2 linked regions of the Homo sapiens genome follow. The protein of the gene in region 1 interacts with the protein of each later gene in a biochemical or structural test. Each region holds a gene or a part of one and is shown in the gene's direction. Other genes may lie near its edges.

What was found. The genes of interacting proteins can lie anywhere in the genome.
Region 2: the proteins of FAT1 (region 1) and MPP2 interact in a test that uses a peptide from one of them, tested with the Homo sapiens proteins (one large-scale study listed by IntAct).

What each region holds. Positions count from the first base shown.
Region 1 is NC_000004.12:186,713,857-186,717,356, reverse strand, and holds part of FAT1 (protocadherin Fat 1 isoform 1 precursor), read left to right. Parts: intron 1-3,500.
Region 2 is NC_000017.11:43,897,537-43,901,036, reverse strand, and holds part of MPP2 (MAGUK p55 subfamily member 2), read left to right. Parts: intron 1-412; exon of another isoform or gene 413-484; coding exon of another isoform or gene 485-566; intron 567-2,656; coding exon 2,657-2,775; intron 2,776-3,500. UniProt on the Homo sapiens protein: Postsynaptic MAGUK scaffold protein that links CADM1 cell adhesion molecules to core components of the postsynaptic density. In CA1 pyramidal neurons, required for synaptic KCNN2-containing channel function and long-term potentiation expression.

The sequences.
Region 1 (3,500 bases):
CTAAGGCTGCTGCTCAATTTCTAGGGTCACAGCTTCCTCCGTTCATGCTGAAAATCATATGAAGATGGGTTGAAAAGAATTAGTGTACACCCAGAAAATAAACAGGATCTACTCATTAGTATTTCAGTGTAAGGATGAAAGCTTTTAAAAGTACCGACATGGCTATGATAATTGAACTAGAAAAATAGAGAGTTTTTTTTTTCCTGTTGTAAATTTTATTTGGAATGTCTGAAATTTTAGAAATCATTCAACATTCTTTTTAATATACAGTATTTTTAAAAAGCCATTTACGCTGGGTGCGGTGGCTCATGCCTGTAATCCCAGCACTTTGGGAGGCTGAGGTGGGTGGATGACTTGCAGCCAGGAATTCGAGATTAGCCTGGCCGTCTCTACTAAAATACAAAAGTTAGCTGGTCATGGTGGTGCATGCCTGTATTCCTAGCTACTCAGGAGGCTGAGGCATGAGAATCGCTTGAACCCAGAAGGCAGAGGTTGCAGTGAGCCACGATTGCACCGCTGTGCTCCAGTCTAGGTGACAGAACAAGACTGTCTCCAAAACAAACAAACAAACAAAAAAACTCGTTTACAATTCATAATCTCTTGACAACTTCATGATCCTGCTTTGAAAATGTGTTTGCCGGCCAGGCCCAGTGGCTCACAACTGTAATCCCAACATTTTGGGAGGTCCAGGCAGGTCGATCAGTTGAGCTCAGGAGTTCGAGACCAGCCTGGGCAACATGGTGAAACCCCATCTCTACAAAAATACAAAAAATTAGCTGGGCATGGTGGTACGCCCAGGTACCCCGGAGGCGGAGGCGGGAGGATCACTTGAGCCTGGAAGGTTGGTGCTGCAGTGAGCTATGATGGTGCCACTGCTCTCCAGCCTGGGAGATAGAGCAAGACCCTGTCTCGGGGGAAGAAAGATGCTTGCAATTTAGAGATCTCTTAAAAATACTTTAAAAATGTGACACTGAACTGAACTCGAAATTCCAAATTTTAATCATGAGTTAAATTCTACTGACGCTTTCACTATGTTGATAGAAAATGAGAGTGGAGAAGAGCACAGTGAGGGAGAACACAGAGTTCTCAACTTAATAATTTTGTGTTTTTATCATAACATGTGAAATGAAAAGTTTAATAATGTCCTGTTCCATAAAGGCTAGAATGACTACTTGTGCTTGTAAGAATTGTGACCGCTCAGTAATAAATATGCGGCGTTTAACAGAATTGGTGCATTGTGTGATGCTGTGTCTCACCTAATGTCCTGTCTCTGTGGCGTGTGAAACCCTTCGAAGACTTGAGCTTGAGGTCATCTAAACACTTGAATATATGCAGTTAGGTTTTCAGCACAGGGGCTGTGTTCTGTTTTGTGAAGAATGTGCAGTCACAGTAATTGATGGAAGCATTTTACATGAAGGTCTCCCTAATGAAGAAATATGAAGATATTAATATCTGATTTTTACTGCAAAAGTTATTTTTCTGCCGTATTTATAGATTTTCAGAGATCTATGCTAAAGATATTTAAGCTTTAGACTGGGAGCCCTTCTCCTTCAAGGCTAGACTAAGTAAACACTCTTTGTTTTGGCTTCGGAAAATGCATTTTAGAAATCCCAAATTGCAGTGAGTTTAAGTAGTGTGATCACCTTCTAAATATCAAAGTATAGCCCTTGGCTCAGATGGTCTTTGGAGTTTAATTTCCATAAGCAAAGGAGTCTAGGCGATAAGGTCCTTTTTAGATGAAATGGTGTTGGAGTCTCTCCCCGCTTCAGCTTTACTGTTTGTTTTGCATGAGAGCCACAGCCATTGTTTTGATCAGGGTGGTTTTTATAGTGAAACCTGAATTCGTGGTTCTTGGTTACATTACTGCACGGTTAACAATGTCTTCCAAAAAGTGTATTTTTTCATTTAATAATTTATTCTACTCACAGTAGCATTCTGTTAGCCAAGTTTGCAGAGTACATTCAGGTTTTTCAAAGATTTCAGTTAGGAATGTGGTCCACAAGTCCGTCCCAGCTGTATTGTGTCCCGTGAGAACTGCTGAGTAGGATGTGGAAGGTAATTGCATGTTTGGGAATCCAGTTGGGGATGAGTGGGTGGTGGTGGGGGCTGTGGTGGGACTGAGCACCTGGGACAGCATGGGGAGAGAACAGCCAAAGCAGTCTGACGTGTTGGCCATGGTCTGTGTGTCTTAGGGGATGGAACAGTGCCAGAGCCTTCTGGTGGGGGGATGGAGGGGGAAGCAGCGTGGCGCATCAGCAAGTACTTTTTTTTTTGTTTTTGAGACAGAGTCTTGCTCTGTCACCTAGGCTGGAGTGCAGTGGTGCGATCTCAGCTCAGTGCAACCTCCGTCTCCCTTGTTCACGCGATTCTCCTGCCTCTGCCTCCCAAGTAGCTGGGACTACAGGCGCACACCACCGCACCCAGCTACTTTTTGTATTTTTAGTAGAGACAGGGTTTCACCATGTTGGCCAGGATGGTCTCGGTCTCTTGACCTCGTGATCCGCCTGCCTCGGCCTCCCGAAGTGCTGGGATTACAGGCGTGAGCCACCGCGCCCAGCTGGATTAGTGAGTATTTATATTATATAGAACTCCAAGTTCTAATGTTAGGCTTCAGCTGTAGAAAAATCTTTATTTACTCACTGTTTCTTATCACACCACTATGCTGTGGTTCCCTTTCCTCCCTCAGTGGCCGACATCTCCCCTGTCAGGGCCTCCCGTTTGGACCCTTCAAATCTTGGGGTTCTGCTCTTGGATTTTTTTTTTCTTCTGCCTGCTCTCTTCCTTGGTGATCTCATTCAGTTCTGTGGTTTTAAATACCGTCTTTCATATTTAGACAACTCTCAAATTTCTATCTGCCGGCTGGAGTCTCCCACATATCTGCTGCCCACTCACAATCTTTACTTGGATAGCCCGTAGCTGTTCCCATCTTACCCTGTCCAAAACTGACCTCCCGATCTGCTCCCTGAGGCTGCTTCTCCTCCTGTCTCCCTCTCGGTTCCTGGCCCCCTTGTTCTCTACGCTGAGCAGTCTTTGGCATCTTCTCTGGTACTGTTCTCTCCTCCTTTCCCTCCCTCTCCCCACTCCAGCATCAGGCAACCTTGAAATAGATTCACAATCTGCCCCCCACCCCCGTTGTGCCCCAGCCCACACGCGCTCCACCTGTGTTGTGGCTGCAGCCTCTGACTGCTCTGGTCGCCCTCCAGCTTCTGCCCTGGCTGCCCACAGGTTTTTCCATTTTACTGAGACCGTGGCACTCCTCGGTTCAGAATCCGCTGGGGGACTTCTCATTTGATTCATACTAAACTCTAAAGTCCTAAAAATTGTCCTTTATCCATGAGTCCAGACGGATCTTGAGAAAAAAAAAGATTCAGGTTGGATGCAGTGGCTCACACCTGTAATCCTAGCAGTTCGGGAGGCCGAGTTGGGCAGATCGCTTGAGCCTGGGTGTTTGAGACCAGCCTGGGCAACGTGGTGAAACCCCGTCTCTATAAAAAATACAA
Region 2 (3,500 bases), on another chromosome or scaffold:
AGGGAGGAGGTGGCATGGGGTGTATTAGAGGAGGGGCTTCTAGAAAAGAGGGTACAGGGACAAGATGGGCCAAGACTTTTCTCCCTCGGGTCTCCTGAAGCTGGCTGTGAGGGGAGGGTCTCGGAGTACCGCGCCAGTCTTGAAGGGGCAGCATGCCTACCCCCTCCTCAAAACTTCCTGTTAGCCGCCTCCTCCCCATCCCCACCGACACTGACATGCTGGGGATCGGGCAATCTGTGGGACTAGGGCTCCCTCCCACCACTCTTCTCCCACCCGGGTTACCGCCTGCTCTGCACCGCGCAGCGCCAGTCAGGGCTTTAGCCAATCAGCAAGGCGGTCACGGCGGCTGAGCCTTCCCATTGGCTGGTTCCTCAGAGGGCGCTCCTCGACTCCCGCCTTCCCCAGCCCGGCCAGGCTTTGGCTGGGGAGGCGGTAGACGGCGGCGTGTAGGACGCTCCGGGAGTCCCCGGGTCTGGGGGCCGCCATGGCAGGCAGCCCAGGCAGCGGGGTCTCCTTGGAGGGTATATCCCTGGAGTCTTCTGAGGAAGCGGAGCTCCAGAGGGAAGGTAGGGAAGGGCGGGCCAGATGGGGGCGGGGCAGCTGGCCCCTTAGCCTACCTTCCTCCAGCAGAGTCGGGGCATCTGGGGAGGGTGGCCTGGGAGAGGTCATCTGAGGGCACCTTCAGGAGAGCTGTCCTGGGCAGAGGGCACCAACTCCCTTGGCTCAGTCCTCCCCTAGATAACGGAGGGAATCTGGCATACCCTGGCAGGAAGGGAAGGGTCCCTGCCCTGGCCTCTTTCAGAGCCCACTGAGGGCCTCGCAGGTCTCTGACCAATGCCAAGCCCCGGCCTGGGCAAGAGGGGTCTGAAGGGCAAGCTTGCACTTTTTTTTCTGGAGAAGGCAGGGAGCAGGAGGAGGAAGGAGATGGGAGTCCAGGAGTCCCTGAACCATCTCTGCCAGCTCCAGTTCCAGTGCCCCCTCCTCCCCACTCCTGTTCCTTCCTGGAGGAGGGGGGCACTGACAAGAGCATTGAGAGGCGCCAGGGGTGCATCCTCCGCCGTCCTCCGTGGCTTGGGTACTGTTATGCAGATGTAGGCATGGGCGGCATGGTGGCAGAGTAATGATACCCTTCGCCCATCTCTGCCCCCAGCTGGGCACATTCTGCTTCTCGCTTCCTTTCCCCGGAACTTGCCACAGCCTGGAACTCCCACCTCTGTCAGTGAGTGAAGGCAGCCCTCACCTCAGGTCTCGGGGGCATTGTTGCGGCCCAGCTGCAGGTGTTATCGTGTCCTCCATTATGTCCCATTTCGGGCTGAGAGTTTGCTTATCCCTGTGATGACTTGGTGTGACCTCAGCCTTTGGGTCACACCAAGGCCTCCAGTGCCTGTTTCCCTAGCTCCTGCCAGCGTTCCAGGCCTCAGCTTTGACTTCCTATCATCCATGTTAATTTCTCAGTGATTATAGATCATTGTCACTCAGAGCTGAAGGCCTGTAAACATCATCTAGCCCAATCCATCCATTTTACAGGCAGGAAAGACTGAGGCCAGTGAGGGACAGTGACTTGTACAATGTCACACTGAATTAGTGGTGCTTAGACTGGAGGCTGCAGGCCCTGGCTCCTGTGTGGCTGCCTGCTTGACTCTGGGCCTGTACTCACGGACTTGCTCCGAGTACTGTCTGTCTCATCCTTGAGCCTGCCAGGTACAGGTGGCTGAGCCCTGGGCTTCAGCCCATCTAGAGGTTGAGTGAGGAGCTTGTGGTTTTCTTTTCTTTTTCTTTTTTTTTTTTTTGAGACGGAGTCTTGCTCTGTCGCCCAGGATGGAGGGCAATGGCAGGATCTCAGCTTACTGCAACCTCCGCCTCCTGGGTTCAAGCGATTTTCCTGCCTCAGCCTCCCGAGTAGCTGGGATTACAGGCGCCTGCCACTACGCCCAGCTAATTTTTTGTATTTTTAGTAGAGACAGGGTTTCCCTGTGTTGGCCAGGCTGGTCTTGAACTCTTGACCTCAGGCAATCCACCCGCTTCGGCCTCCCAAAGTGCTGGGATTACAGGCGTGAGCCACCGCGCCCGGCCAGAGACAGTCTTGCTCTGCCACCCAGGCTGGAGTGCAGTGGCGTGATCTCAGCTCACTGCAATCTCTGCCTCACAGGTTCAAGCAGTTCTCCTGCCTCAGCCTCCTGAGTAGCTAGAATTACAGACCTACACCACTATGCCTGGCTAATTTTGGTATTTTTAGTAGAGATGGGGTTTTGCCTTGTTGCCCAGGCTGGTCTTGAACTCCTGGCCTCAAGTGATCCACCCAACAGCTTGTGGTTTTCTGGTGCAGGGCAGGATCTGCAACCTGACACCTGCTTCCCTTTCTCCCTTCTCTCCACCTCAGAGTCTCTTCCAGCTGCCTGGAGCCTCCCACCTGCTCAGGCTGGCATTACCTAGGGTGGAGAGAACAGGCCAAGGAAATTGTCCCCTTCCTCCAGGATCCCTGTCCCAGGCATTCAAGGGCCTGGGGTGCCTGTGCTGGGCAGGGAGGGGAATGTTGCCGGGGAGGGGCTGCCTTCTGTGGGACATGGGGGTGGGGAAGTGGCAAGTATTGTGGTGTGTTTTGGTCTTCTGTACCCAGCTGGTACCTGTGTATCTCACTGCCCGTACCTTCCCCCAGCCATGCAGCAAGTCCTGGACAACTTGGGATCCCTCCCCAGTGCCACGGGGGCTGCAGAGCTGGACCTGATCTTCCTTCGAGGCATTATGGAAAGTCCCATAGTAAGATCCCTGGCCAAGGTACAGTGCTCCAGGGAGGTGGGCACAAGGGCACTGTGCTTGGGGAGGCACAGTAGGGGATGGGGTATTAGCTACAGAGGGCTTTGGGAATGGGACATGTGGCACAAGAGGCCCCCCTGAAGGGGATTGTAGAAGAAAATCATGCCCAGGTGATGACCTGAGTGGCTGCAGGTAGAGGGGGCTGCCCCCACACCTGTCTGGTGAGTGCGTGGGTGGATGTTTGTTGACTGCCAGCTTGTGGAGTGTGTGATTGGTGCGGGCTAGCATGCACATGTTGGAGAATCTCTAGAATTCATCTTGCCTGTCCTTCTGCCTTTGGGCGTTTTGTGTGTATGTCTTTCTAAGGTCACCTGCCATGTATCAGGTTGGGGAGAGATTGACTAAAAGAGAAAATTATAGGACAATTTGGTAATGACAGTGATAGAGGTGGATACACTATGCATTTTGGGAGCATAAAGGACAGGTGTCTAACCCAGCCTGGGGTGGGTGAGGAGGGCTTCCTGGAGGAAGGACCACTTGAGCTGAGTGGAAGAATGAGGAAGAGGGGGAGGGCATTCTGGGCCACAGAAGAGCTTGAGCAGAAGCACAGAGGTAAGAAAGAGTCAGGAGTGTGCAGGGGATTGGAAGGGCTGGTGTGAGGCTGAGCCTCAAGTGTAAGACAATGCGAGCTGTGCAAAGGTTGGCAGGTCTGGAGGGCACTGGGGGCTGTATGTGGGTGCTTGGGC